Linked DNA regions of Homo sapiens: region 1 is linked to region 2. The links come from fine-mapping of genetic effects on gene expression. A gene starts in region 2. The other region holds a variant in brackets. All regions are shown on one strand. Distances are between the middles of the regions.

Region 1 (16,236 bases), 52 kb before region 2:
GGGCCACTGGCAGCCAACACTTCTGGCTGTCACAGACGGACAGGCTCATCCCTAACATTTTTGGGGTCTGGGGTAAGATATGGTGTCTTCTTCCCGCTCCTTCTCTTCCCACCCTTTGCTTTATCCTATACCATGAACAACCTCCCTGGCATGTGTGTGAACATTTCAGCCATAAATCTAAACTCATTACATGACTGCACCCCCTTTTCCCCAACCAGCCATGCTTGGCCTCTGCTCGGGCCCAGTACATCAGCGGCTGAGGGCTATTTGGACACGGGGCTCCTGGGTACTGAAATATGATTGGCGGGGGCCTTGAATGTGTACTTTTATTGCAGGTCTGGGGCATGGTATGTAGCTAACGAAGCAACATTGTGCTACTCTTCTTGGTCATTTCTCCTTGTGCATTTTTCTCCTTCATTTTTGTCCTTGCAGGACAAGAAGCCAGCTTTCAGAGATTCTCCAGCCATAACCATCATCATCTGCTCAATGCCCAACGTCTCTCTCCCATGCTGCCTCCCTTTCTCTCACACACACATAAAGTAAATGAAATAGTAAGTTCTCCCTGGCCTTCTCCAGCAGCCTAATCTGGCATCTGGGATGCCTTAAACATGTTCCTGGATCAATACCATGTAGTTGTGTCCCAGGTCTACAATACCATGTAGAAACCTGTGTCCCGGGTCATCTGTAAGATCATGATTCGAAGGATGGGTAAATCAATTCAGCAGGAAATTGCTCTCCTTTCTGCCACAAATATCTCTCCTAGACAATGGATACTGGCTTCCCCTGATCTTGTCACTCTAAATCTGCTTCAGAGATTTTGATTGGAGAACAAAAGCCCAGGTGGGCGCTTGAGGAGCCACCTTCCCCTCCCCCAACAACCACCATAATGGTGCAAAGTTTAAGAAGAGTTCACTGGAAAACTCTGTTTAACCCGATAGACTTTAATTCCTTTTGGTAGCAGATAAATCAGGCCTGCCATCAACAGACAGCTGATCCTTACTCCCACCCACCACCCAGGAAAATGCATTTCTCTGCTCAGTAAGAAGGGATAACCCATCAGCAAGGTACCAGGTGTTCTTGAGGTGGGTTGTTTAGAAACCTTCCTCCTGGTGCTGCAGAATTCTAACCCTGTTCAGGACTTTATGTCCTCTGTTTAAGACTCAGAATGTATCTTCTTATGGATGATGTGACCTGAATATCTGACAGGACATTTTAGGGGGATGGGCTGCAATGGGGAACAGGGTACTGTCATCACAGTATCTTTGGAGCAAGATCTAAGATTAAAATGTGGCTTCTCATACTGACTGTGTGAATTCAGACGCCTTACTTAAATTTTAAATTCTCTGAGCTCTGGGAATTTATAAAATGGAAATAATGGCACAAACGCATAGCTTGGTTGTAATTGCATTATTCTCCCTGTATTCCGACTTCTGTTTCACAGATGGACCAAGGATGTGAAAAGATTTCAGGCAGGTTCTCTGTTTCCACGGTGGCAGGGAGGGTCAGGATTGATGAGGAGCCCTGGGGCCACATGGGTCAGCTTTTGTGTTCCCTCTGTGGTGGTGGGAGCATTTCTAAGAGGGCTTTGTTCCAGGGACCCAGCCTTCTTTTAGAGACTGAGACTATTTTTAACCCAAGTTTTAGTGATTCTGTAGGACAGCTGTTTAAGGGAAATATGTAGGCCAGTCTGTGATTTTTGGAGTCATCATTTTAAGGTTAGGGAGTGGGATGGGGGAAGAGAACCAGAATAACTCTGGAGTTTCTGGAGGCATCGCAGAGATCTGCACCTACCCTGCAGAAAGCTGCAACCCAATTTACTTTGTGGCCACTCTTGAGGATCAGGACATAGCTGAGCAGACTAATATTCTTTTGTTATACTTCAAGTAAAGTGTATCAGTTTCTGCCCATTTTCTCTCCCATGTGCTATTACCAAATCATTATGGAGAAAAAGTGGACAAGAAAGGCCCTCACACACTGTAATGAGAACAAAAATCAGTCCAGCTTTTCTTGAGTGCACTTCAACAATATCTGTTAAAACTGAAAATGCACTCACCCTTGGATCCAGCATTCCCATTTTTTGTTTTGGGCAGTCCTTTTCTCTTTTTTATTGTTAGTTTTGATTGTGGTAAAATACAAATAACATAAAGTTGACCATCTTAATCATTTTTAAGTATACAATTCAGTAGTGTTACGTATGTTTGCATTGTTGTGCCACAGATCTCTAGAACTTTTCCATCTTGCAAACTGGAAACGGCACCCACTGAACACCAGTCCCATTTCCCCTTACCCACAGCCCCTGGAAGCCACCCTTCTACTTTGTCTCTGTGAATTAACTACTCTATTACCTCATGTAAGTAGAATCATATGTTGTTTGTCCTTTGGTGACTGGTTTATTTCACTTACCATAATGCCCTCAAGGCCCGTCCCTGTTGTACCAGGGGTCAGAATTTCCTAACTTTTAAAGGCTGAATAATATTCCATTGTATGTATATAACCAGCATTCCTACTTTTAAGAATTTATATTAAAGAAACATTTCTACAAGTTCCCAAATAAACGTTTACTTCAGGAGTGTCTGGGAGAGTGCAAGATGGGAGAAAATCCATGTATTCCTCAGGGGCATGGCTGAATACCACGAACATGGGTTGGTTTCTACCTAAATTTGCTGGTATAAAAATATGGCAAAGATCACTTGCTCATTGAAAACTCAAGCCACAGAGAAACCTTCTTGGTTCAATTTATTTCTTTACTTTGTAAAATGGAAACAAAAATTCAGTGCCAAATTGTTGTTGCTGGTGTCCTTAATTATTTGGTAAGAGTTAGATTTTTTAAAATAGTTTGGGTTATGTTTGTGGTCACAAAAAACAACTAAGAAATTTTTAGACAGCAAAATAGAGAGTTTCGAGAGGGAAAACATTTGTGGCCCAAAGAGGTGGTCAGAAGAGAACCCTCTGTCTGCACTCAGGTGTTTACCAAGCAATATTGAGAGCCAGTGTTGTGGGTTCCACAGCAGTGGTAGCCTGGCAGGAAAGGATCCTCCTCTAGACGTCCTTTGAGGTCTCACCTGGGTCTGGCTTGGCCCTGTGCTTCTCATCCAGTTGACCTGAATCAACTTTATTTCGAAGAGCTTTGAAACAAAATTTTTGAAGAAGCAGAAATCCTGCTAAAATAAATGTAGACTCTGGAGTTGCTGGGCTGTCAGGCTATATGTGCTGGAGGAGGTGGATCGTGGCCTGGGTCCCAAGGGCATACCTGGTATGCATCTCCACCCACCAGTAACTAAAAGGGAATCACTTAAACTGTTTGTTATGTACAACTTGAACATTATCATCAGATCCTTTGGTGTCCTGCTCTTCGTAATCTTGGCTTTACACCTCCTATTTTACTCCATGAGAGCATCCTTGTCCTTGAGTCTTGGGACTGATGGCATCCTCCTGCTTCCTTCCCTGACTTCTTTCAGTAGTAACAGCTGTCATGTACTGGGTTGAGTCCTTTGGTACTGGTGCATACAGGGACTGGCCCTGCATGAATACTCACGACACTCCCATGAGAGAGATGTCTGAGTACATCCATTATGCAGATGGAAACTGAGGCCCTGAGAGCTCTGTCTAGCTTTGTCCCCCAGGACCTCCATTCCAGTAGTAGCCCAGGCATTGGTAAGTTCGTTTGAACTGCACAGAAATAGAGAGGACAGAGGTTTTCTTGAGGATGAGAACACCTTTTTTCTATCTTCTACCCCACCACTTTCCTCCTTTCAGTTTCCCTTCAAGCAGATGTCAGCTTACTTCCAATGATCCAGAGTCCTTTGGCTGTTTTGACTGCAGGTCTGGCAGGTGCTAATTTGCCAATGGGAAGGAGCTGGAGCCGCCCCACAGCTGTTACCTGTCAGCTGCAGGCTGAGCTGCTCCCAAAGTCCATTTTCCTGAGTGAGAGCCACGGTGGTGAACCCAGTGTCAGGGATTCTTTCTCACTGTCCCATCTTGTCGGCCTTAGAGAGGGACCCCTGGGACAACAGAGGGCTTAGTCAGATCCAAGGAAGGGAAGGAGTCTCTTGCATGGATATTCCTAATTTCACAAGGCAGGTGGGCAGAACTACAGATCAGGTTGGTGACTTTTTCAACTTCGCTCAGAGCTTGGTCAGGGCTAGGGGTAAAACATGGATCTCCTCTGGCCGGGGCGTCGAGATGTCAGAACAGCTGGATGAAAGGCAGAAGATGCACCCTGCCACCCTGGGATTTGGCGTGCCTGATGCCAAGCATTGGAGTCCTTGGAGCTGCCCGCAGGACTGCTGCCCTTGATCACCAACTCTCCTCACTTGTCAGAACTCAGCTATTAGGACCCCAAGTCAGGTCAGGGCTGTCAGGGAGACCTCGGCTTGTAACTGACAGATGCTGGGCTGTCAGGCTGTATGTGCTGGAGGAGGTAGGAGGTGGCCTTGGTCCCAAGGGCACAGCTTTTGAGTGAGAGGACAGTTGCCAGGGAAAGGGGATGCATGCCCTCTCCTGTCTCTCTGTGTGTGTGTGTGTGTGTGGTGTGTTTTGGGGGCTGAGGCACAGAGGAAGAGGATGCATGTGGCTGAATTTCTTATCCCTCTGTTTCTTCTTTGCATTTAATTCAAAGGCCAAAAAAAAAAAAAATGCATAGGCTGCCTGGGGGTGTCCAGGTGGAGTTAAAGCAACTGCTGTTTAGTGCATGTGAACTTCAGTCTGGGAATATATCTGAGGAGTCTTTGCCAAGGGACAAACACTGCTTTTTCTACGTATATTACAAGAGATATTTTAAAAAAGTGAGAGACTGCAACCTGAAGGGCTCTAAAATCCTTTTATCACCCTTGTTGGGATGAGAGTAGGTGTGTGGGAGTGGGGTCCTGTGGGAAAGGGGAAGGGGAAGGGAAGTTCTGCTCAGTGGGGAGGGCACTGCCTGTTTGGCAGAAGGAGAAGAGGATTAGAGGCCTTCTTGCCTAAAGCTGTCACCCACTGAACAATGGCCAGGTGTTTTAGTTTGCTAGGGCTGCCATACAGTGCACTAGGCAGACTGGATGGCTTAAACAGCAGAAAGTTATTTTCTTATGGTGGTGAGGCTAGATGTCCAAGACCAGAACATTGGCAGGTTTAATTTCTTGTAAGGCCTTCTCCTCGGCTGGGAGGTGCCTGTCTCCTCCCGTTGTTTTCACAGGGGCTCCCTCTGAACCTGTCTGTGTCCTAATTTCCTGTTATAAGGACATCAGCCATATTGAATTAGGGCCCACCCTAATGGCTTCATTTAACTTAATTACCTCTTTAGAGACTGTCTCCAAGTACAGTCACATTCTGAGGTACTGGGGGTTAGGACTCCAACATATGAATTTTGGGAACACAGTTTAGCCCATATCATTGGTAAAGGTGTTGGTTTTTTTGAGCAACACTTAAAGGAGAATAGGTTTAGTTGAGTCCATTAGTCCCGCTTCACAATCACAGAGACCAGAACCTGTGATGTGACAGGGGAGCATGAAGCCTGTTCTGTGGGCACTGCCTTCTGCCTCCATTTCTGATTCTACTTCCTGGACACCTCTACCCCTCCTGCTCCCTCAGTTTCTCCACTGTGCTCAGGACTGCACAAGCAAAGATAGTGGCCCCAACACCTATTCCAAGGACCAGCTGGGCCTCTCCACCCTGATTGTCTCACTGGCACACTGAACTTAGCATGCCCCAAACAATAATGCTCTGCCCGACCTGCCAGCTTTTCTTCCTGACTTCTCAAATTTCATTAAGGGCCATCCTCGATTCAGACAGGAGCCTCAGAAGCTGATTGCCTCCCTCAGTGAGGCTGTGACCTCCCCGAGGACAGGGCTGGGGCTCTTTTATGCCACATCCCCCATACCTATGTGTGCAGCCCTTAGTAAGCACCCAAGAGCTCTCTGGAGTTCAAGGGAATGAATCAATATCTCTGTTTCAGCCCCAAGGATACATTCTAACCAATCATCATACCTAAGAAATTGCTCGATTTCATCCTTCCCCCCTGCAAACATTTATTGGCCACTTACTATGTGCTTTGACTTCCTTTTATAGTCTGAAACTTAGCTGGGTGCTAGGGGTGCAAGACAGAGAAGGTGCTAGGAGTGGCTTCGAGGGTACACTCACACTCCCCCTTTCCCAAATCCTTGCGTCTGTACCGACTCAGGTCTTCATTCCCTCTTGCTTGGATAACGGCACCCACCTCCCAGGGCTGCCCAGCTTGCCCTCTTATTTGTCTTAGACACAGCTGCCTGCTTCTTTAAGCTTACCTTGACTGTATCGTTTCATTGCTCAAAGGCAGCAGGGTGCCCGCAGCGTGTAGCCTGACAGTCAAGCTCTCCTCAGCCTGCTAGTCCAGCCTCATGTCCCATTTCACTCCCTTTACCCCTAAGGAACTGATGTACCAGCCTCCCCCTTTCCTAACAGCCCCCTGGAGACATGCCCCACTTCCGGCTTCTGCGCCTTTGCCCAGTGCTAGTGTCTGCCTGGAAGTCCGTTTCCCACCTAGACTCCCCTGTTGAAATCCTCTGCCTCCTTTAATCCTCTTCTGCCAGAACACCACCTCCAAGAAGCCTTCCCTAACCCTGATGCTCTCCTGCTGTATTGTAGGACTTTGGAGTGGAAGGTAGAAGAGAGCTCTCATGCACACACCTGCCTCTTTCTAGCCTGCATTCTCCAACGTAGCAATCACTGTCCACCTGTGACAATTTAATTAAAAATGAAGTTAAATGGACAGTTTGGTTCCTCAGTCGCATTAGCTACATTTTAAGTGCAGTGTAGCTATATGTGGCTAGTGGTTACTGTATTGGATGGCCCAGGTTTAGAACATTCTCATTGCCCAGAAAGCTCTGTGGGGCTGTGCTGCTCTAGCGAAGAGCTCCTAGTGGCCTGTCCTGGTATTAAGCAGGGGGCTGGCCTGCAGTAGGTGCTCAATTTTTTTTCAGTGTTTATTGAATTTTTTTCAATGTTTGTTGAATTGAATTGGACTTTCGTTTCCAAGGGAGTAAGAGAACCAGAGGATCGTCAAAGAGAATTCTTTTGAGCCCTTGAACCAGTTCTGCAGACTTCCAAAGTGAACTTACAGCTGGCCCTGAGGGGCAGAAGGCAGGAGAAAAAAGAGGGGAAGGCTGGGAATGGAGCACCTACTGCTTGCTAGGCCTAGTGTACAGTCAGTCCAAAGTTTGGTGGGGCTGGTAGGGTGTGTGTGTGTGGGTACAGACAATGCTATTCTAGACACATTTTCCCGTCTAGATGAGATGTATTTTTGGCTCACAGCTTAACACAGAATCAGGGCCAAGAGTGTGCACTTGAGTGGGTGC[A/G]TCTGAGACTGTCAGCGTTTGAGTGCGGCCTCCTTTGTTCCCTGTCTCAGCAACTCCTCTGCCCTGAGAGCAAGATGGGTGAGGGGCCAGGCCACCTGAGCTAAGCCCTGAGAGGGGACCTGGGGAAAGCAAAGAGAACAGGGGGAGGCCCATGGGGAGGAGGGAAGAGCAAGGCTCCCGGCCTTTTTCCAGCCTGAATCTGGGGCTGTGTGTCAGTCTTAGCTTCAAATAGAGGCACCTCCCTTGCAGCAAGAAGTAGCTGGTTTCTCTGGGAAACCCAGTCTGCAGGTCCTCTGCTGTGAGTGGGAGGCTCTGAGCTGTCAGGCTCAAATCAAGAAGTGGATCATTTCCCCTATCAGACTCTGTTGCCTTCCCCGTAAATGCTCCCAGGAATTAATATTGCGAGATGATGTTGACGCCTGGGAGTCAGTCTATTTCTGGACAAAATATTGGCACTTAGTTCCTTTTCCTTTGAGAAGGCTCATGAGAATCCAAGCATAGCAATAATGGCCTCTATGTGGAGTGTCCACTAACTGGCGTTTGTAATCAAATGTCTCAGGTATCCTTGTACTTAATCTTCCTGGTAACCCTGAAAAGTAGGCAATGTCCACTTTGCAGATGTGGAAACTGAGGTCAAAGACATTAAGCAACCTGCCTTTTCCTCACCAGCTTCTAGTACACTGCTCCATGCCTCCCTAGCACTGTACAAATAACAGGGATTTTATTTGCTGCCCCCACTGTGTCCATGATAGCTTTCAGATTTGCCCCTCCTGCTAGCCAAGCCTGAGCCCAGGACACTCCTGATGCAGCATCAGGTCCCACTGACTCCTGCAACTTCAGCCACACTTTTAACCTCCCACCACACCCTGGCATCATTAGTCCTAAGCAGCACCCAGCAGAGATGCCACTAAAGAAAGGTGACAACTGTCAGGCAGGCCGTGAAAGCTCCTTGCTGCTTACCAGCGTCTCCAGCTCACTCTCTACCACAGGCAGGCATCGCTTGCCTGCTTCTCCCAGGCTCTTCGCAGCCAAGCTTAGTCATGCCCCTACTCGCTTCTCTCACCTCAGAGACACCGCCTACCTCATTTTTACTGTGCTCCCCCATCCCCTGAGGCAGACTGTATTTTCCAAAAACAGACACAGCAATATTTCTAGTCCACATGCTGTCCCAGCACTTTTACACTCTTCATCAAGAGATGGAGTCTATTTCCCCCTCCTTGAACCTGAGTGGGGCTTTGTTACTAACCTAAGGAACAGAATATAGCAGAAGAAAAACTGCATTATTTCCAAGGTTAGGTCATAAAAAATGATATGGCTTCCACATCATATGTAACAAATTTCATGTTGTTAGATATTTAGATTATTTACAATATTTCCTATCACAAGGGTCTGGAGAACACAGCTGCCATGTTATAAGGAAGCCCATGTAGCCAAATGGAGAGGCCGCATGTAGGTGTTTTAGTCAACAACCCCAGCTAAGGTGTCAGCTCACAGCCAGCTTTGACCACTAGACACGTGAGTGATCAGGACTTCAGATGGCTCTAGCCCCTGGCCCTTAGGCTGCCCCTCATAGATGCCAAATAGAATGGAGACAAGCTGTTCTCACTGAGCCCTACCCAAATGGCAGATCTGTAAGCAAAATAAACCAGTGTATTTTGGGGTAGTTTGTTATGCAGCCATAGCAACTGGAACACCCTCAATGGAGTTTTAATCCAGATAATTAATAATTGATATACCCTGTATCTGATTTTTTCCCCAGGATGCCTGCCTCTAGCTGCTTCTTACTACATATTCTGTGAGAAAAAAAAAAAATCCATAAGGCCACAGGGACTATGAACTTGAGTATTATAGTTTTCTAAAAATACTGTCTTAATCCAGGGTTGAGGCCCTGGCTAGACGCTGGTCAGTTCTCTGTCTTGAGCATCCAATTAAATCCACATCCTCAGCTACCTCCTCTACTAGGCTCTCACACTCAGGGCTACCATACACCTGGACTGCTCTACCCCTGCCCTAATCACCCCAGGGCCAGGTATCAGGTGACTAGGGACAACCCCCATGCCCCAGAAATTATTTGAACTAGCTAATTCTGGAATGGCTTAAACTAGTCAAACTAGCTTGCTTACCCTGCCTCACGCATTCCTTCCCACAGAAACCATAATAAAGGCACCTGCCCACAGGTGCCCTTTCTCCCTCTGCCTCATGATCAGCCTGGAGCTTCACCTGAGCATCCCTGCATGGTGTGCTGTGTTCTCCCAGGGACCTGTGAGTACAATAACTGTTGAATTCTTTCCTGTTTCTCTCTTGTAATCTGCTTCTGGCCTTACCACACTCCATTCAAGGTAATATGGTTAAAACACCTTGACACCATCCCTGTTGGCTGGCAATTGTCATGTAACAAACCACCTTAACAATTATTTATTTATTTTTTAATAACAGACGAGCTTTATTTTATTCTTATCCATTTCACAAAGAAAGAAACTGAGGCTCCTTTGCTTCTCTGCCCATTTGCATTTTCTCGCTGCACTGCACAACTTCCTGGCCAGAAGTCAAAATGATTGACAGGCAAGAGTTAAGGTGTCAGGGAAAAGACCACTACATGATCTATAGTTTCATTTATGTATCCACAGTCAGTTTTCCAAAATCCCCCAGGTAGTCCTAAACTTTCTGAATCATCCAATTATTCTAATAAGCATTTATTGAAAATCTGTGTGCTTAATTAGGCTATAAGAATACAAAGAATTGAGATAGAGTACACCTTGGAACACATTGGGATTTTTTGATTGACACTGGGTTGTTCAAAGGGCAATTCCTCTTCCCTCTTCCTTTTTTAAAAAAATTTATTTCAATAGCTTTTGGGGTACAAGTTTTTTTTTGTTACACGGATGAATTATATAGTGGTAAATTCTGAGATTTTAGTGCACCCATCACTCCAGTAGTGTACATTGTACCTAATGTGTAGTTTTTTATCCCTAACCCTGCTCCCACCCTCCACCTTCTGAGTCCCTAAAGTCTATTATACCACTCAGTATGCCTTTGTGTACTCACAGCTTAGCTCCCACTTGTAAGTGAGAACATATGGTTTTTGGTTTTCTACTCCTGTGTTACACTTAGAATAATGGCCTCCAGCTCCATCCAAGTTGCTGCAAAAGACATTATTTCATTCCTTTTAAAGGCTGAGTAATATTCCATGGTGTCTATCTACCACATTTTCTTTATCCACTCGTTAGTTGATGGGCACTTAGGTTGGTTCCACATCTTTGCAATTATGAATTGTGCTGTTATAAACATATGTATGTAAGTGTCTTTCATATAATGACTTATTTTCCTTTGGGTAGATACCCAGTAGTGAGACTTCTGGATTAACAATTATTTAAAACAACAATTCATTATTAAAGCTCACAGGTTATGAGGTTGAACTTGGCTGATCTTAACTGGACTTGCTCATGTGTCTGTAAGTCCCCTGGAGGTTCTGCTCAAGGTTGGGGTTGGCTCAGGCTGAGAATGGATACGCAATCTTAGCTGCAATCAATCTGGTCCACATGACTCTTATTCTTCTCCTGGGACAAGTGGGATCCTTAGGCATGTCCTTCTCATGGAGATAGCAGAAGCATGAGGAACAAGCTGAAACACACAGTCTCTGAAAGCCTAATCTTACCACTGACATCTCATCACTTCCATTTTATTGTATTAGCCAAAGCAAGTCACGTGGATGTCAGGGGTAGAATTATGTCCCTGCTACAGCGAGAAACCACTGAAATTTACCTGACAACAACAAAGGGCATGGATACAAGGACTGAAAAATTGGAGTCATTACTACAAATATACAATATTTCCCAATAGCTACTGCACTTGGAGAGTTTGGTCTGGTCTTGGTTTGGATTGGTTCTCAAATAACCTCCTCTTATTATTTTTCATTGAGCTTAAAGTGGATACTTTGGATAATATATTTTAAAATTAATTATTTTTGACTGGCTTTTTATTTATAGACATATCAATTATGCTCATAAGGTAAAATATTAAAATAACACCAGAGAGTATACTATGTAAATTAAGTCTTCTTTCCTCTTCTCACTGCTGACTTCCTAATTTTCCTTTCAACACTATTACCTTTGAATTTTTCACTGAATAACTTATCTATATGTATGAGTATATAATGATCTACCTCATTTTTTCTACATTTACAACATATGTAACAAATCTTATGTTGATAGACATTTACATTGTTTCCAATTCCTATCACAAATAATGATGTAGTTAATAACCTTGCGCATTCATCTCTGCATACATATGAGAGCAAATCTACAGGATATATTCTTAGAAATAGAATTGGTAGGTCAAGGTACATGTGCATTTGAGATTTTGATAAGTTTTGCAAATTACCATCCACCGATGGTTAATTTCTGCTACCTTGTACAATGTATGAGAAACATATTTTCCTATTTCCTTGCCAATGTGTTATTTTGCTTTTTGACCTTTGCCAATGGAGTAGTTATATCTAGCAATCTGAGTTTTAATATTCACTTTTTATACTATCAGTTTGTTTATGATAACTTTTTCAGACATTTAAAATCCATTTGTGTTTATTTTTCAGTGAGCTGTCTATTCATATTCTTTGAGGATTTTTCTTTTGGGTTTCTGTTTTTTTTTCTTATTTACTGTATATATTTGCCATGGACTGAATGTTTGTGTCCCCTCAAATTCATAACCCCCAGTGTGATGGTATTAGGAAACGAGGCCTTTGGGAGGTGATTAGGTCATAAGGGTGGAGCCCTCAAGAATGGAATTAGTGCTCTTATAAAAGGGACCCCAGGGCTCTCTCATCCCCTTTCCTCCATGTGTGAGCAGAGTGAGCAATGTGGCCTTCTGCGACCCGGAAGAAGGCCCTCACCAGAGCCTAACCATGCTGGCATCCTGACTTCCAGGCTACCAAACTATAAGAAGTAAGTTTCTGTTGTTAATGATTCACTCAGTCTATGGCATTTTGTTATAACAGCCTGAAAGTACTAAGACAACATTCTTTTTGTTTGTTTGTTTGTTTTGAGATGGAGTCTTACTGTTGTCACTGAGGCTGGAGTGCAGTGGCATGATCTCCACTCACTGCAACCTCCACCTCCTGGGTTCAAGCGATTCTCCTGCCTCAGCCTCCTGAGTAGCTGGGATTACAGGTGCCTGCCACCATGCCTGGCTAATTTTTGTATTTTTAGTAGAGTCGGGGTTTCACCCTGTTGGCCAGGCTGGTCTCAGACTCCTGACCTCAGGTGATCTGTCCGCCTCGGCCTCGGCCTCCCAAAGTGCTGGAATTACAGGCGTGAGCCTCCGTGCCTGGCCAGCATTCTTTATATGAAGGAAAATTAGCTTCTTACTCATCATGTCTTGCAAATATTTCTTCATAGTTTGTAGTTTGACTCTGTTTAGTTTTTAATTTGCCTTGCAGAATTTTCTTTATTTTTTTCTCCCTTCTTTGTTCAGTCTTCTCTGTCTTTTTTGCTCCTTCCAAATTGGTTTATATTTCTGCAATTGCTTTATTTCCTCTTTCCTAAGTTTTGATGTTTTTTCATATTATGTTGAAACATCTTCTAGTGTTGTTTCTTCCTTGAATATTTTATTTGGCTTAGTGCTCTTGTTTTAAAGAGGTGATTATTTCATTAATTTCTTAGGTTGTGGTCAAATATTTGGTCACAATTTTCATTTGCTCCATGGCAGTATGTTTCTGATGTATGTTGTTTTTTGCCCTGTCCTGTTCCTCATATTTCTTGCTCTTCTTTGCAGCTGTTGTCAGGAGAATCAAATGGTGGGTCCCAGCTGATGGGTTCATAGTGAACTTGCTTATACAGCAGTGTGTGTGTGTGTGTGTGTGTGTGTGCATGAGTGCATGTGTGTGTGTGTGTGTGCATGAGTGCATGTGCGTGTGTGTGCGTGTGTGTAATTTGTTAAGCTAATAGAGACTGGCAGCTGCAGAGATGCTCATAATTCAGTCTTTCCTGTATCCACCTTCAACCACAGAACTCTTCCTGCAAGATAATGTGTCTCTTTATTCCTGTCTTTGTCTTCAGCCTATTTCCCATGCCAAACAGAACCCAGGGAATCTCCTATAGCCAGCCTATAAGCTGATCCCACTGTTCCAGGGACAGAGTGTTGATTCTGCTTTCAGAGATATGCCACCAGCATTAGATCTCTGTTTTGCAGGATTTGTCTGGGAAAGCAATAGCAGGTGTTTTTGCTCAGTGTCTTCCTGGTGTAAGAAAAATAGAACTTCATTTACTTTCTGTATTGTAATTTAATGGCCAGCACAATCCCCTATCCAACCAGTTAGTAGGAAAATTCAACTTCAGTTCTTTTTGCATGTTTCTCCACATTTTCCTGAGATTATGTCAATGTTTGGAGTTATGCAGATGTTAGATGCTCCAGCAACACTTACTGAGTCTCAATCCTTATTAGAAAGAGTCCTAGGAGTGGAGTGGCGAGAAGAAACTTTAGAGCAAGTGAAAATCATCCATGAAGCAAGCTGTATTCTTCTGAGGTCTTCTTCTTCTTCTGTATTTTTATATACCGGAGCATTAGAGAGTACAAGTGATTCCTCAGTATTCATTTTCCCCTTCTGTTACAGCAATAGAATCCCTGGTGTTTACGCATGTTCTCACTATAGATGGGAACTGAACAATGAGAACACATGGACACAGGAAGGGGAACATCACACACCGGGGCCTGTCGTGGAGTGCGGGGAGTGGGGAGGGATAGCATTAGGAGATATACCTAATGTTAAATGACGAGTTAATGGGTGCAGCACACCAACATGGCACATGTATACATATGTAACTAACCTGCACGTTGTGAACATGTACCCTAAAACTTAAAGTATAATAATAATAATAAAAAAAAGAATCCCTGGTGTTTAACATTCTGGTGTCCTAAGTTCAAATGCCTATTCCAGCTGCATAGGTAAGGTCAGTGAAGCTGGTTGGGTGGGGAGTGTGATAAACAGGACAGCATGTGACCCTTCTAAGAAGGATAGTTATGGCCACGTTCTGGCAGCCCATTTCCAAGTAGTAGTAACCTGGTCAACATTGCTAATAAAGAGTATATTTATGCCTTCCTTTTATCTAAGGGTAGCCAAGTGGTTACGTTCTGATCAGAACTGGATGGAAACAGGATTAGTGTGTTTGTTTAACTTCTAGAAGTCGTTTAAGAAAATAAAAACCTAATGTTCTTCTTTTCCTCCTTCTTACTGTCTGGGATATGGACAAGATTGCTAGAGACAGGGGGACATCTTGGATCATAAAGTGGCATGGCAGAGTTCTAGATAGAAGGAAACTGGAGACTCACCATGAGGAGTGTCATACCAGCTCTGGATTGTCTGCTTCTGAACTTCCAGGAAAGAGAGAAATAAACTTCTGTCTAGTTAATTTAAATATGCTTTTGAGTGATGTGTTATTTGCAGCTGAACTTACTCTTAATTATTATATTGGAATCAAACTTTTAGCCTTTATCAGTCTCCTTCCTAGGTCCTTCTGTGAAGGGCACAATTATTATGTACCAGGGAATCTAATGGGAAAATTAAATATCTTTATTTCTTCCAGGCTTACCACGAAGGCAAGTAGATCTTTTGTCTTGGAAATTGAGGGTCTCCTTTGGATTGGAAAAGGTTGTGTTTTCAAAAGCCAAAACAGGTCCTAGGTTTCAATGCCTATTCCAGCTGTATAGGTAGAGTCAGTGAGGCTGGTTGAGTGGGGATTGTGGTGAACAGGACCGCATGTGACCCTCCTAAGAAGAGTAACCATGGCTGTGTTCTGGCAATCTGTTTCCAAGTAGTAACCAGTGTTGCCAGCTCTGGTTGATCGAAAGAAGCCAGAAATTCATATTTGTCAGTGAAATCTCTTAATTATAAAATCTTGGCACTAATTGAAAAAAATTCATTGTACATTCCAGACAAAAGATGTCAGAGGGATGAATCTGGCCTTTTGTCCTATGGGAGAAAGAGAAGGACAGCAAGAAGACAGAGAGGGAAGCTTGCTGGCTCAAGTTGGGAGGGATGATGAGGGGCTCTTTTAGTGAGGGGATGTATTCCATTCCCAAAGAGCCATATATAGAAGGTGTCTGGACTTCTGTTGGCTTAGTTGGAAGGTACACATTGGGTGCTATGAGCTCATTTATTTATTTAGTCAACACATATTTATTGATAATTCACTATGTGCCAGACATATGCCAGATAATATATGTGCATCCAGTAGATATAGGAGAAAAAGTTTCCTGCTCCATGTAGTTTGTATTCTGATGAATAAGATAAGTAATAGCTAAGCAGAGAGACAATGAGCAAAATGGTTTGAGTGTGGTGTGGTTTGTGAAGAAACAAACAAGGTGGTATAATGAAGAGTATTTAGGGTACGATTTCTGCTTCTGATCAGGATGGAGTAAGAGGAACTGAATTTACTTTCCTACTTTAACCAAAAAACATGAACAAAGTAAAAGACACAATGGTATACCATACTAAAAATCAAGAGAGTGATCCTTGAGAGATGAAAAACAAATGAGGTGAGCCCTATGATTGCCCCAGCTCCCTGCCTGGAAAAAGTTCTCAGGTGCTTTTTATAGCACCCAGAATTTTCATCTTGTTTTTAATGTAAACATAGTAAGCAAAGTCATTCTAAAGTCTGTGTTTGATATTCCAGAATCTGGAACTCCTGTGGGTCTATTTCTATTATTTGTTCTTTCTGCTAGTTCTCATCCTTGCTTTCTTATCTTCTCATCTGACTGATTATCTTTGATTGTATACAAGAAAAAACATTTGAAAAATTGTTTGTAGAAATAGGTGAAGCCTAGAATAATGAAAGTTTCCTCCAGTGTGGATTTTAATTTGTTTTGGCCTGGGGCACTAAAAATCCAAGATCACCTTAATCTGCCATAAGGGATTGAATTTTTCTGGATCACT
Region 2 (15,714 bases):
ATTATGTTCAATAACATCCTACTGGCCTAAGTAAGAACGATGGTCACTTAGCCAGGTGTCGTGGTGTGCGCCTGTAGTCCCAGCTACTCAGGAGGCTGAGGCAGGAGAATCACTTGAACCTGGGAGGCAGAGGTTGCAGCAAGCCGAGATTGCGCCATTGGACTTCAGCCCGGGCAACAAGAGCGAAACTAAGTCTTAAAAAAAAAAAGGCCTCACTCACTGCCGACCTGCCTCGCCACGCCCCGGGCATGCCCTGCCACCACCTCACAGAAATGCTTCGGTTCCCCACTGTCTTTAGATAAGACCATTGTCCAGGGTATTGGTTCCTCATCTCACTCGGGCTTATGCCAAAGATGTAAAATTCAGTGCAGATGCCTGAGCCTTAATGCTTCAAGGTGTAGACCTTTTAGTCGATGCTGTAGCCATTACAATGGGGCCAAAGGGAAGAACAGTGATTATTGAGCAGAGCTGGGGAAGTCCCAAAGTAACAAAAGATGGTGTGACTGTTGCAAAGTCAATTGACTTAAAGAATAAATATAAAAATATTGAAGCTAAACTCGTTCAAGATGTTGCCAATAACACAAATGAAGAGGCTGGGGATGGCCCTACCACTGCTACTGTACTGGCATGCTCTATTGCCAAGGAAGGCTTTGAGAAGATTAGCAAAGGTGCTAATCCAGTGGAAATCAGGAGAGGTGTGATGTTAGCTGTTGATGCTGTAATAGCTGAACCTAAAAAGCAGTCTAAACCTGTGACCACCCCTGAAGAAATTGCGCAGGTTGCTACAATTTCTGCAAGTGGAGACAAAGAAATTGGCCATATCCTCTCTGATGCAGTGAAAAAGGTGGGAAGAAAGGGTGTCATAACAGTAAAGGATGGGAAAACACTGAATGATGGATTAGAAATTATTGAAAGCTTGAAGTTTGATCGAGGCTATGTTTCTCCATACTTTATTAATACATCAAAAGGTCAGAAATGTGAATTCCAGGAGGCATATGTTCTGTTGAGTGAAAAGAAAATTTCTAGTGTCCAGTCCATTGTACCTGCTCTTGAAACTGCCAGTGCTCACCGTAAGCCTTTGGTCATAATCACTGAAGATGTTGGTGGAGAAGCTCTAAGTACACTTGTCTTGAACAGCCTAAAGATTGATTTTCAGGTTGTGGCAGTCAAGGCTCCAGGGTTTTGTGACAAAGAACCAGCTCAAAGATATGGCTGTTACTACTGTTGGTGCAGTGTTTGGAGAAGAGGGGTTGATCCTACATTTTGAAGATGTTCAGCCTCATGACTTAGGAAAAGTTGGAGAGGTCATTGTGACCAAAGATGATGCCATGCTCTTAAAAGGAAAAGGTGGCAATGCTCAAATTGAAAAACATATTCAAGAAATCATTGAGCAGTTAGATGTCACAACTAGTGAATATGAAAAGGAAAAACTGAATGACTGGCAAAACTTTCAGATGGGATAGCTATGCCAAAGGTTGGTGGGACAAGTGATGTTGAAGCGAATGAAAAGAAAGACAGAGTTACAGATGCCCTTAATGCTACCAGAGCTGCTGTTGAAGAAGGCATTGTTTTGGGAGGGGGTTGTGCCCTGCTTTGGTGCATTCCAGCCTTGGACTCATTGACTCCAGCTAATGAAGATAAACTAATTGGTATATAAACAATCAAAACAACACTCAAAATTCCAGCAATGACCATTGCTAAGAATGCAGGTGTTGAAGGATCTTCGATAGTTGAGAAAATTATGCAACGTTCCTCAGAAGTTGGTTATGATGCTACTAGGGTCGGAGATTTTGTGAATATGGTGGGAAAAGGAATTATTGACCCAAGAAAGGTTGTGAGAACTGCTTTATTGGATGCTGCTGGTGTGGCCTCTCTGTTAACTACAGCAGAAGTTGTAGTCACAGAAATTCCTAAAGAAGAGAAGGACCCTGGAATGGGTGCAATGGGTGGAATGGGATGTGGTATGGGAGGGGGCATGTTGTAACTCCTAGAATAGTGCTTTACTTTTATTAATGAACTGTGACAGGAAGTCAAGGCAGTGTTCCTCACCAATAACTTCAGAGAAGTCAGTTGGAGAAAATGAAGAAAAGGCTGGCTGATGTTTAAGAAATCATTATAACCATCAGTTACTGGTTCAGTTGACAAAATATATAATGGTTTACTGCTGTCATTGTCCATGCCTATCAATACTTTATTTTGTATTTTTGAATAAAAAGACATTTGTACATTCCTGATATTGGGTACAAGAGTCATGTACCAATGTACTGCCTTCAACTTAAATAACTGAGGCATTTTTACTACTATTCTGTTAAAATCAGGATTTTAGTGCTTGCCACCACCAGATGAGAAGTTAAGCAGACTTTCTGTGGAGGGTGAGAATAATTATGTACAAAGTAGAGAAATATCCAATTATGTGACAACCTTTGTGTAATAAAAAATTGTTTAAAGTTAAAAACAAAACAAAACAAAAAAGAAAAGAAAGAAAAAGAAAGATGGCCAAGCCTAAAGTCAAGGTACAGGGAAACACACTCCAAGTACCATAAAGGGTGGATTGTCCAATTCAATTGAGGAATGGAGTGAATAACTGAAATTAATAATCTCACCTACCACATCATTATACCTGGATTCCAGGACGAAGGAAAAGGGACAAAGGAGTGCATCTGTCAGCCAAATCAGCATCTTTAAGGCATCTACTGAAAATCCAATACAACACTTACAATTATATTTCATTGGCCAGAAACTTTTCATATCATCACTCCTTGCTGCAAGGGAGGCTAGAAAATGTATTTTTTTTAAATTGCAGGTGGTAGTATGCTTAGCTAAAAAACATTTTTTTTAAAATACCGGATCAGAAATGAAAATAGGTGTTGAGTAGGCAATTAGCAATTTCTTTGCCAATATTCAACAAGATATATCCCTCACTCTTGTGAAGTAATCTGATAACTTAAGGTGTTCATTGTGATTGCTTGATATGTGTATATCTAGTTCGTATTTAAATCATGATAATCCAGCCAATAATTAAACACTGTGAGATTGCTGCTTTTGCAAGGAAGAAAACACAAGTCATCTGATCTCTCCTTTACAAAGCTTAAACCTTTTTACTAAAACTCAGTTTATTTAACTTTTATTTTCTCCTAAAATATAGGTGATAGGGCCAGGAAGAGTGGCTGTTAAAGAGAAAAGTAAGTGATTTTAAAAAGAAAGTGTGTAAGTATCTCAAGGACACTTGTCTCCCAGAGAGATTTCCAATAGGTTCTTCCTTCGGGTTTTTACTCAAATGTTACCTTTCCCAACCACTCAACTTACATAATCACATTCCCTTTTTCTTGGTTCATTTTTCTTCATACTATTTATCACCATACTTGTGTATTTTATTATCTGTCTCCCCCTACTAGAAGGTGAGTGACTTGAAGGCAGGGCATTTGTTGTGTTCACCATTGGTGAACTGGATTGCTGAAAACTGTCCTTGATGATGACTTCAGAGTACCTGGCCAACAAACCAGCTAGAACCAGGAGTTATTTTTTGCACAGCAGCATCATGGCATGGCTGTTGCAGCCATTTTGGAACCTTGAGGCAACAAGTCTGAGGAGAAAAGGCAAGATGTTGAAGGTGGCCATGTGGAATCATGGAAAGAGACTGAGTCCTTAACGTCATCCCTGAGCAGCTGAACACACACAGAGGAGCCTTCTTCCAGGCTTCTTGTTATGTGTGATAAAGAGAAAGACAGCCCCTGCCATCTGGGAGCTGGTCTGGTTCTATCAGCTCGGCCTTGGCGTTCTGTTGAGCATAAACAATTTCACAGAACAGCAACATCAGACCCAACAGACAAGACCACTTTGTGACTTGATTGATAAAGGCAAAAGCCAGACCACTCTGTAATCATGTCAACGGCCCTGTGGAGAGAAGGGTATGGCTGATCCAGTGAATTTATTATCTGACGCAGGAGAGATCTGGGAGTCAGTACCCGGGAATATGGGTCCCCAGACCCCGCACTGCAGACCTGAGGGACCTGCAAATATGAGGAACAGGTGTGTGGTGCTGGGAAGAGGTACAACAAAGCAAGGGGCCATCGAGCTGCCTTCAGATGGTACCAAGAAGCCACTAGGCTGGAGGAACGTTTTGCAGCCTAAGTCTTTGAGACCATGGGTGTGGACCAGAGTGTAAGCAGGTCTCTGAATCTGGGGGGCAACAAGGGTGTTAGAGTAGAACGGCCCTGGGACCTACGGTCAGTGTATCCAAGGAGCGGGAATGGGATAGGAGGAAGGAAGTGGTGTGGAAAGTCTGGCCCCTGCCCTGCAGGGAGGCACGAGGATGGCTGGTGGTCCTGGGGTCGCCTTTGGGCTGCCACCCACCCACAGAGAACAGGGGCAAAGCGCACGTTCAAAACCCAGCGCAGCCAGGTTCCACCGCGGAACTGCGCGGGGAAGGAGAGCAGAAAGGCTGGACTCCGCTGACCGGGGAGAGGCGGGACCGCCTTTGGGCGCTCACTGGAGAAGCAGGGGGTGTGGGAGCAAGTTCAAAGCCCGGCCCCGCCCGGCCTCCAGGGCCAGGAGCGGCGCGCATGGCGGGACCGGCGCAGAGAGGGCGGCTGCAGCTGGTGCGCGGTTGCTAAGTCCCGCGCCCCCGGAGACGTTCCCGGTGGCTGTCGCCGGGCGCTGCGCGGCGCGGGGCTGGCAGGCGGGCGGCGGGCGGCGGGAGGGAGAGAAGAGGGAGAGTCGGCGCGGGCTCGTGGCTGCTCGTCTCGCCCCGCCTTCCCGCGCCTGCTCGACCGTCGAGCCGCGTCCCCGCGCTGCCACCTCTGCTCCAGGCTCTCCCCGAGCCCGCCGCCGCGCCATGCCCGCCGCCACTCCAGCCCCGCAGCCGCCGCCGCCCCCGGCCCGGCCAGCCCCAGCCTGCCCGGCGCGGCCTGCCCCGGGTGAGTACCGTGCGCTCCGGCACCGACCCGTTCTGGGCGCCACCTTGGCGGGGGCGGGAGGACTCATTCGCCCTAACTCTGGACCCCGCTCCGTGCGGGATGTAGCAGCAGTGCCAGACCCCGCGTGGGTGTACGGAGGACTGTGTGTGTGTATGTGTGTGTACGTGTGTATGTGTGTGTACGTGTGTGTAAACGCGCGCGCGTGCGGGTGTACACCACCTGAAACCTGCTTTCTAGGGGAATAACGCTCTCCGGAGCTGATTTTATTTCCCTCGCCAGCAGGGGGGCCCTTCCTGGGAAACGCACTGGGTGTCTTTCAAGGTGCAGGTGCGGTGAGGCTGCAGAAGGGAGAAGGCGCAGGGAGGGAGCTGACATTTATTGTGCAACTCAACATGCCAAGCGCTTCACCTAGAGTTAAGCGTATTTCATCCTCTCCACAAATCTGTAAAGAATGGAATTATCCCCATTTCTCAGATGAGAAAACTGAGGCCCACAGAGCTCGTGCCTTGCCCAGGGTCACACGGCTCCATAGCAGCGGAGCTGGAGTTGGATCCAGGTCTCTAGAGGTCTCTGACCCATCTAAATGACAAGAAACCCTCCTTAGAACTAAAGAAACACAGAAGAACCAAAGATGATTAGGAAAAAGGATACAGGCAGAGCATTTGGGAATTAATATAAAAAAATCTGAGCTCGTGAAATATCCTATCAATTAATTTCAAATATAGGATCACATTTACACTCCTTTCCATGTCTGGCCCTGGGGGCGAGGTGTGGTGAGGAAGGGAGAAGGCTGTGCCAGTCCTTGGCAGAGGCGTCTGGGGACACCTTTTCAGAGTATCTGCCTGCTGGGAGGGGGGAAGTGTGTGAGAAGTTGTGGAGGGAACTCCGTTGTTATTCAATCCTAACAGTTAGTCATTCCTCCACCTCACCCCCTCCTAGTTGATTCCATTTCCTTTCCTTGATGTATTGTCCAAGATGACAGCTGTTAAATTGAAGCAGGGTCCCACCTTCATCATTGGCTGTCATAAAACCTCTTGGCATTAATTAGGTGGCCCTGCACTTTGATGATTGTATTAGGAGCTGTGAAGTGTCTGTGTAACTGCTTACAGTGGAGATCTGTTGGGCTGATGTTGAGCTAATGATCTTGATCAATGAGGCATCTACAGCAATAGGCAAGCATTGTGCTTATCCTTAGGATAAAGTAGCAAGAAGCAAGACCCTCAGGAAGAAAAAAAAAAAGAAAAGAGTATTGGGTTTGCCTCACAGCCCAACTTTAGAAAAGCATTTCAATTTAATATTTAAATTGCTTCACTGAAGAAAGAACAAAGAGGGGCAGAAAGTGTTTTCTGAAAGATGTTCTGTAACTCCTTTCATTTAGGTTTGAAAGATTTTTGAGTCATGTTCTTTTATGGTGAGCTTTGCCATCTTGGTGCGTATTGGTACCCTGGGTGCCTTCACTTCCAATTGCCAGTCCCTCCATCTCTTTGTTGGAGGATGACCCTTGGGCGGCAGAGCCTATGTTTGTAGGGACTCAGAACAGGGAGTGCCTGGGAATTTACATCTCCCCTGGGGCAGCCCCTCCTCAATGACTGATGGGTGCTGGAGTATAAATAGTCCAGCTTCTTTGCCCTTGATTGGGACACTCTGAAGCATGACATCCTTTGTTTCCAGAGATCCAATGTGGAGTTGTGTCAAATTGACCTCTATGGTTCTTTGCTTGGCTTGTTTCCCTCGCTTGGCTTGCTACTTTTTCTTGTTTTACTTCTTCACATCCCTACCATTTTTTCCTAGGAATATCTCCTAATACACTTTCATAGGAATTCTTATCTCAGGATCTGATTCTAAGGAATCCAGATAAAAACATGGACCCTTCTCACTGTCAATGTTTTTATTCTTCCTATGTTATCCAAACATGACTAACATCGGTAATAGGTAGCCCATGCTAACCTGTAGGGTGCCTTTGTATGAATTCACAAAAGGTGTTCCCTTCTGGGCAGATGGATCCCCATGCCCAGGCAACGGATTGGCAGACAGGTGTTCAGTGTCCACTAGCCCCCTGATCAGTGCTTCTTTGGCAGTGCACACAGTACTCAATGATCATGGTGGCGTGGTGCTCAGAAAAGCAAAAAACAGAGTTGCTTAGTTGTCCCAGGATCTCATTTCTGGCTTCTCTTTTTTCCCAAGAAAAAATCCCCCAAAGAGGGATTTTCCCCTTTTTTCCCCTAAATATTTGAATATTTCAGGCAGATGTTTTGGTTTTCTTTGGACAAGCCAGTCTTAGTTTCTTTCTAAAGCCAACAAAGGGGAGGAAAAGGGCTGCTTTGGCTGGTGGAATCTCAATCCTGCAGCCTGCAGGCGGGTGGTGGTGCCTGGTCAGGGAGGGTGGGTAGGTCTCCACCAGCCTCCAGAAGTTCTCAGAGGGGTCTTGTCTTGACGGTGAGGTTACTGGGTAGGGGCTTGGATGGGCTGCTTTAGTTGGAGGCTCTTGCTTGAAGACGTTTTCCTTTCCTTGGATCCAGGAGGGTCATTGTATCTGATCTGGCATCCTGAGTTTCCTCACCTTTTCCTTTGGTGGCCTCTTGATAATGTCTAAATTTTGCCCGTCTGCTGGTGGAGCAGAGCCCCTTTTGAAGATGCATACGTGGGGGAGTTCTTTGAAAAGAATGTTTTTGTTAACTGCTTGGTAATGTAGGTCAGAAGAGAGAAATCTAGGGAAAGTGAAAGAGTGGGAAGAAGACATCTGTACTGGGAATTGGGGAGGGGAGTTTGGCTCCATCCTCAGAGTTCTGAAGCCTCCTGGTGACCTGGGGCAAGTCACTGAACTTCTCTAGGAACCTCAGTATCTTCACCATTCATTTAATAGCAATTGTTCAGCCAGCCTCAGAGTGTTCTTTGATGGTCAAAGGGGAAATATTTTCATGGACTCATCCAGTGATTATAGGGGAAGCCCATAAAATCTTTATACAGAGACAACTGGCAATCTCTTGGGGACAGTGGTGTATGTAGAGGCATCATGATGTGGATAGCAAGTGGTAGAATAGAGATAATCACCAGATCAGTGGCTGCATGAAGGGACAGGGAAGTCTCCAGAGCTGCTTGGGCTGGTTTTGAAGGCTAAATGTTGACAGAATTTGCAAAGGGCAGGGTGTCATGTAGTGTGTAGTTATGGAGGTGAGTCCATCAGAATTGCTTTCACATTTGGGCTCTGGCCCCTCAAACCCATGTGATCCTGAGCGAGATACCCAACTACTCTGAGCCTCGGTTTCCTTATTGGTAAAATGGGCATATTCAAATTGCTCTGAGGATTTAGTGATGTAAAGCAATTACCAGATATTATTACAAATGAAAAGTATTGTTATTAAAGTTACCTTTTAGCTGAATGGATTCTGTTTGGCTGCCTGGGGCCAGTACTTTTTGAATATTGCTGGACATATGAATCATCTGGGGATCTTATTAAAATATAGATTCTGATTCAGGAGGTCTAGGGTGGGGCCTAAGATTCTGCTTTTCTCCCTAGCTCCTAAGTTCTGTAGATGTTGTTTCTTTCTTTTTTTAATTATACTTTAAGTTTTAGGGTACATGTGCACAACATGCAGGTTAGTTACATATGTATACATGTGCCATGTTGGTGTGCTGCACCCATTAACTCGTTATTTAACATTAGGTATATCTCCTAATGCTATCCCTCCCCCCTCCCCCAACCCCACAACAGGTCCCGGTGTGTGATGTTCCCCTTCCTGTGTCCATGTATTCTCATTGTTCAATTCCCACCTATGAGTGAGAAAATGCGGTGTTTGGTTTTTTGTCCTTGCGATAGTTTGCTGAGAATGAAAATGTGGCACATATACACCATGGAATACTATGTAGATGTTGTTTCTTTAGGGACCACATTTTGAGTACAAGGCCCTAGGCTACTCCCTCTTGGGTAAAGCCTGAGTCCTTTGTGGGACCTGAAGAGCACTGTGTTTGGAGAGATGATGGGGAGGGTTCAGGCCTCCTAGGCAGGTCTGGCCTGGAGCTGGGGTAGAGAGAGCTAGGAATTGCTGCTGTTGAGTAGGATGTTCCTACTGGGTAGATAATGGATCAAACCCAGCTTCCTTCAAATGCCCTAGGACCAGCCTCCTGGAGGAAATTCTTCCTGGCCAAATGGCCAAATACTGCCTGCTCTTGCATGCTGGCCCTGAGGATGTAGAGATGAATAAGCCATTGGCCCATCACTGCCCCTGCCACAGTGTGATTGCGGGGAGTGGGTGAGGAGGTGTGAGACATAGAAATGTACGATTATGATATGGTGAGATGAGCACTCTGTGGCGTTAGGGTAATGGAGAGGCAGGTAAGAGAGTTAAGAAAGGGAGGAACCCTTCCTGGTGGTAATTAAATCTGAACTGGGTTTTGATGGATAAATCACTGTGTCTGGGATTGGAGGAGGGCAGAAGAGTGTGTGGAATAGTATTCTAAGACTGAGGAACAGCATGTGCAAAAGTAGGCTGCCATGATGAAACAGCTTGGTGTGTTCAGGTCACTGAACTAAGAGTTGTTTGGAGCATGGAGTGTGATGGGGAGGACTTGATCAGGGAGCAGAGCTCAGTTCATGAAGTGTATTAGTCAGGAGGGTTTTCTAAGCTTTGCTGCAGTAACAAATCAACTTCATCATCTTGGTAGTTTAACTCAACGAAGGTTACTTCTCACACACAATGTGTGTCCCTCACAGGTCAATTGATAGCCAAGTAGACAGAGCTTCTCCCAGTTTTCAGCCTTGCCATCTGGAAAATGTGGCCACTGTAGTCACCAGTGCAGGAAGAGATAGAGGGAGAGTGTCTCTCTGGCTCGTCTGGAATGAATGCAATGTTGCTTTTGTCCACAGCCCATTGGTCAGAACTAATTGTGGGCGCAGGGGGCTGGGAAATAGGGGATGGCGGCTGGGATGGAAGAAAAAGTCAGAGAATATCAACTCTCCCACATATGTCTTGTTATGAAGCTTAAGCCTCATTCTGAGGCCACAGTTTCTCAAATAAGAGTAATATGGGAATTCCTTTAAAGGAAAAAAATTCTTGTAGATTCCTAGTGTTGCTTAAATTATTTTTATTATAGTGCAGTTCAGATATGTAGTAGTTTTACATGGGTCTAAACTCTTTATACTTAGAGCTTTCATATGACCACATAACCAAAACAAATATATAAATAAAATATCAACACAGCTACAAGTCAAATACATTTGGATTAACCTCATGAATTTAATGTTCTGGATGAAGTTATTTTTGCTAAAATGAAATCCCTATTTCTGGTTATAACAGCTGTTGTTCAGGTTCTTATGAATTTGGTGTGCAGTGTGCCATGCCACAAGGTTTTATGATGGCTCAATTTTCTCATCAGTTTCCTTTCTATACACTAAACCTGATTTGTTATTTTCTCATTGGCCTGTGATAATTAAAATAATGTTTCTTGATGCCAACTGTCTCAGTCTGTTTGTGCTGCCATAGGAAAACACCTGAGCCTGGGTAATTTGTAAAGAACAGAGATTCTTTCCCAACAGTTCTGGAGACTGGCAGGCCATGATTAGGGCACCTGCAAGCTTAATGTGTGGTGAAGGCTTATTCTCTGCTTGTTGCTACACACTCCAAAGGGGATGGACCTTGTGTCTTCACACAGTGGAAGGAACAGGAACCAACAAAGGGCCTAAGCTATTTCTTTTCAGCCCTTTTGTCAGTCACTCATCCATTCTTTAAGGTAGAGCCCTCGTGACTTAATCACTTCCCCAAAGCCCCCACCCTTCAATATCACCACAATGGGGACTAAGTTTTAACATATGAATTTTCCGGGATATTCAGACCATAGCATCAACTACAGTATAAATGCAAGAGTATATATGGTGAAATTATGTGGTAGCACTTAGTCATAACATGGCCATTCAGATGATCCAGAATATGTTTCTATTGATTCTTAAAAAAAGGTGATCATGAAAGTGAAAACAGAAAGTTAAACAAAACACAATTTTGAGAACTCATGGACCCTCCTAAGATAGGTTTGAGGATCTCCTGGAATTTGAGAAACAGCTGGAAAACTACTGGAGTGTTTAATGAAGGGGACATAGATGACCAGCTTTATGGTTCAGAGACATCACTTTTCCCAGGGTGTATGGGGTGGCTGAGGGGGAGAGAGGAAGGCTGAGACAGCAGAATCTGGGGAGGCTTGCAGGTAGCTGAGCTAAGATGTGATGAGGGCAGGTGCTCAGATGTAGTTAAGGTAATGGGAGAGAGGAAGCATGGATTTGAGAGACACGCAGGAGCTGGAATCCACAGGACTTTGAGGTTGACTGCGATGTGGGAGGGGATGGAAGGGAAGAGGAGTCAGGGATGACTCTTGGTCTTGGAGGTCGAGGGTGGTTGGTGGTACCACCGACCAGGATGAGGACCGCAGGTGTCAGATGTCCATGGCAAGAACAGAAGAGCTCAAGACCAGAACTGTGTTCTGCCGTATTCACCATCCCATCTTTTCTCACTGATGTGACTTTTCCTGAACCAGTTTCTGAGAAACTGCTACATCTTGCAGTGTCTATTTTTCTTCTATGGGACATTAATTAGTGCTCATTAAGATGATTTGAATGGCTTTATTAGCTTTTCTATTGTGCTTGCTGCTTCTGTCCTGTAGGAGCAGATTCTGGCAATATTACCTGATTAAGCACATACTTTTTTTTTGTTTTCTGTATGTTCAAAGGAGGTGAAAAAAATTGAGAAAATTGTGGATGGTTCTGAGCTAGAAGCTGTCATGCCATATAATGTGAGATTAGTTTTCTGCCTTCAGTTTTTATTTTAAGAGCACAAACGATCAACTTTCCACTCTGTGTTTTTGGATGGAGATACTGAAAATTCTTTGAGGAATGAGTAGAGGTTAAATGATCTCTAGGTAATTACATAAGAAGTAAAATGGAAACACTGCACTTTGGGGAAGTGGAGGGCAGAGAACACAAAGCCACACAAACAGACAAAAATTTCACAAACCGAAAATAAACCCCTGTGGTTTCTAGAGTAAAATCTCATGTTAATTAAAATTTTGGCATTACATATTTTAAAATGTAACTTGGTATTTACTTTTTGTATAAATAATTAACCTAATGCACCAACTGATGGAGGGAAGCAACATGAGCAGATTGCCAGAAGTGGCTTTTACTTTCCTGTTCCCACTTGAGAAACTTATGCTCTCTCCTGGTCTCAGGCATTGTTTTCATAGCAGAGCCTCTGAGGCCCTCCAGGGAGATGTGTAGCCTCCCCTGGAGGGCCTCTGAGTCTATCTGGAACTTGTGATAAAGGTTCTGTGAGCGAAGGCATACCTGTCACCCCCAGACACCACATGCCACTTGAGGATGGCACCATGTTTTTTCATCCCAGAATCCCCCCAGACTAGCAGGGCATTTCCCCTAACAGCAGTTTCCATACCCACAAGCTAGTCCAAGGCACCCTACAGGAAGTATCTTTGGGTCTCAGGGTTGGTTGGAGCAGCAGATTTCCTAGCAATAACAGCCATAACTTTTTGGGAATGTCTCTTCCAGGAATGGGTTAGACAAGGCTGGTTATTCATTTTAGTTCAGATGTTGTTTCGGTTTCAGAGGGCTACAACCAAAGTCCCCTGGAGCTTGGGTCTCTCCATTTGTGCCAGAGGCAGTGGTTCTTGCCAGATAACCCATGTGCTCCCCTTCTTTAGCAGATGCTATCAGTCCCTGTCCATGGTCCCTGAGCACACATCTTTCCTGTTCTGGTGGTTCCCACTGCAAGCCACTGCAACACTGTTGGATGACTTTCTTTGGTTGCAGGGGCATGGTTGGCCCCCATCTGGTGCACACACCCAGAAGTGCTGGGCAGCTAATGTCCTGGGAGCAGCCCTCAACCACCAATGGAAGGGAATGGATGGGTGAATATCACAGTTTCCTTGCCCCTCTGGAAGGATAACTCTGAGGCATGTTCTACTCAATCTCTCCAGAGGTTCCCAGCAGAACTGAGCCCAGGTTGGCCATAGCAGTAACCTACTCTTTCATGCCACTGTCCTACTTCACTTTTCCACTCTCCTCTAGTGCTGTCTGAGATCACCTCCCAAATCAACCCATATCCTTGCCCTAGGCTGTGCTTTTGAGAGAGACCAACCCAGGAATCTTTTGGGGTGGTTGGGGTTATGTGACCAGCTCTGGCCACTGGACTGTAGGTGGAAGTGCCATGTGTCACTTCTCATTCCAGGCAGTTGAAAGCCAGGATACCACTATTGTCTTTCTCGTCTGCTGCTGGGGCCACCTTGGAGGCCATGTGCTTTGAATGGAGGATCAGAGATGGAGAAAGCTGCTAGGTTTACACTGGGATTCATACAAGCAAGAGTCTTTTATTGTGGTAGCCCTAGAGCTTTTTGATATTTATCAGTTGGGGCACCTATCTATCTGATAAACAGTGTCACACTGTCGTTTTTTGGGTGCCACCACTGATGTCAGCCCATCCTCCACTTCTCCATCCTACACTGGTCCATAAGAACTCTTGGGATCTGCTACCCATGACCTCCTTTAATGCTTCTCATTTCCAAACTCCCCTCCTCTTCAGTAGTTTGATTAATATTAAAGTAAAATTTATGTTTCTCTATGGTTTTTAATTCATCTGGAAGTTATTTTGTTATTATTTGTAAAATAAGAATCTAAATTCATTTTATTTCCAAATTATTAACCAGTTGTTCCAATATTGAATAAGAATCATTCTAACCTTCCTGGCTAGTTTGTAATCACCTTTCATTATACGTTAAATTCTCATATAAAGTAGTATCTATTTTGGAACTATAGTTTTTTTTCTTAAATTCTTGTGCAAGTACCAAGACATTGTAATTGTAGCTCTGTAATATATTTTACTATCTTCATTACTCACTACTCATCTCCTTCCTGTCCTCCCTCAAAAATTGTATTAGTGTTTCAGTTGCACAAAACCTACAAATTACAAATGGGAAGAACTGATATGTCTATTAGGCTTTTACATTCTGGAATGGACAGTCATTTAAACGGCTTTTCTAATTCCTCTCACAGTTTTGTAGTTTTCCTTATGTTGCTCATACACATTTTTTGTTAGTTATTCCTAGCAATTTTCTATATGTTGACATATAAATGTATAAATTTTTTCATGTGTTTTTCAATTTATTGCAGTTATGTCAAAAGCTTGTATGTACATATAAGCTTCACTATACATATAGAAAATTCATAGATAGTTAATATATGTAATTAATGATTTTTTTTGCCTTATAGCTGACTACTTTCTAATTATATTTGGAAGTAAAAACATATAAAAACTATTTCATGAGAGTCCATGTACTCTAATTGCCTTTCCAGGTGGCTCAGAACAAACACATAGGTATGTCCTAGAATTGAAATAAGTTCATGGAGACAGGGAAAGATGGAGAGAAAAGATACATGAAGGAGTTGGCTATGTGGTAGCAATCATAGGTTTTCTCCATCACAGAACATGTGCAGAGTTACAGGAGCCATGAAAACAAATAGCTTGGGTTCATTGTGGGTTTTCTCTTTGAGATATAATCTCTCACACATTTAAAACTTACCTGTAAGTGTCTCTGACTGGTCCTAGACACTACTAGCACCAAATCAAAGTCTTCTCCTAGATGATTGAAACTTGTCAGTAATAATGTGTTTACGTTTTCGGTCTGGATAAGAAAAGATGATGTCAGAGGATGCCACCTCTTCAGTAATGTTAAAGACAGGCCTGGCAGGTCAGACTGTTTAATGTAAAATAAAAGGTGACTACGTCCCTAACAGGGGTCTTACCTTGTGTTCAAGTTAAGAAAACCAAAATCAGTGGGCTTATTAATTTAAAAAGAAAAGAGAAACAGAAAGAAATGAAATACATTAGGTTGAAGCTCCTTTTTCTTGGAGTCAACTGATGTCCAAGGATTGTAGATCTCCAAGTCATCTGATTTATAAGGAAGCTCCTAGTATTAGCATATAAGTTTGCTATAAGCATAAAAGCCATGCATTGGCTGCTGGGAACTTTTAGTGCTTTTTCTTTAATGCCATTGATAATATTAACTTAGAATCCAAAGAACTGACCATTTTCTACAAAGACTGCATAACTGAAGATGTTTTACTGGTTTTGAAGATTATATTTTCCAAAGACATTCTGTAACATGAATGAAAGACAGGAATACATACTCATATTAAGAAGTGGGGAACAGGCTGGGCATCGTGACTCACACCTATAATCCCAGCAATTTGGGAGGCCGAGGCGCGAGAGGTCACTTGAGCCCAGGAGCTTGAGACCACCCTGGGCAACATAGTGAGACCCTATTTCTTTAACAACAACAATAACAACAAAAATTAGCTGAGTGTGGTGGCTCATGCCTGTAGTGTCAGCCACTTGGGAGGCAGAGGTGGGAGAATTGCTTGAGCTGGAGAGTTTGAAGCTGCAGTGAGCCATGATGGCACCACTGTACTCCAGTCTAGGCAGAAGACCCTATCTCAAAATAAATAAATAAATAAAATAAAATAAAGCATCTGAGAATCAACTGAAAGACCTCTGGAATTCCTGTGTTCTCAGGAATGCTTGTTAGTTACTTGCTTTTTTCCAATTGCTTTGTCTGCATTACAAGGCAAAAACGGCAGAGGCTTCTTGGTTCTCTTTATGTTTCCTTTCTTGCTCTTTTTTCATCGTGAGTACAAAGTGATGTCTTTATTAAGCTGTTTCCTTAGAAAGGAAAGTGGTGTTAGTGTTGAGGTGCAGAGGGCTAGGTAAGGAGACAGACTGGGGTCTTTGTATTTTGCTTCCAACAT

The links. PIP is the estimated chance that this variant, and not a neighbour inherited with it, causes the effect.
Region 1: its variant is fine-mapped to the expression of DCLK3 in unexposed skin (GTEx, PIP above 0.99).

Annotation. Positions count from the first base shown.
Region 1 is chr3:36,805,614-36,821,849 of GRCh38, reverse strand. It overlaps LINC02033 (long intergenic non-protein coding RNA 2033), which reads left to right. Exons shown (of 2, transcript NR_147141.1): 2 at 433-1,300. Among named protein-coding and RNA genes, the nearest start is that of LINC02033, 8.8 kb to the left of the region's middle. The variant A/G (reference allele first, on the strand shown) is at 7,311.
Region 2 is chr3:36,753,384-36,769,097 of GRCh38, reverse strand. DCLK3 (doublecortin like kinase 3) reads left to right here and starts at 4,545. Exons shown (of 5, transcript NM_001394672.2): 1 at 4,545-4,916. The coding sequence starts at 4,835. LOC105377029 (a long non-coding RNA gene) reads left to right here. Exons shown (of 3, transcript XR_940721.2): 3 at 1-110. It also overlaps the pseudogene HSPD1P6.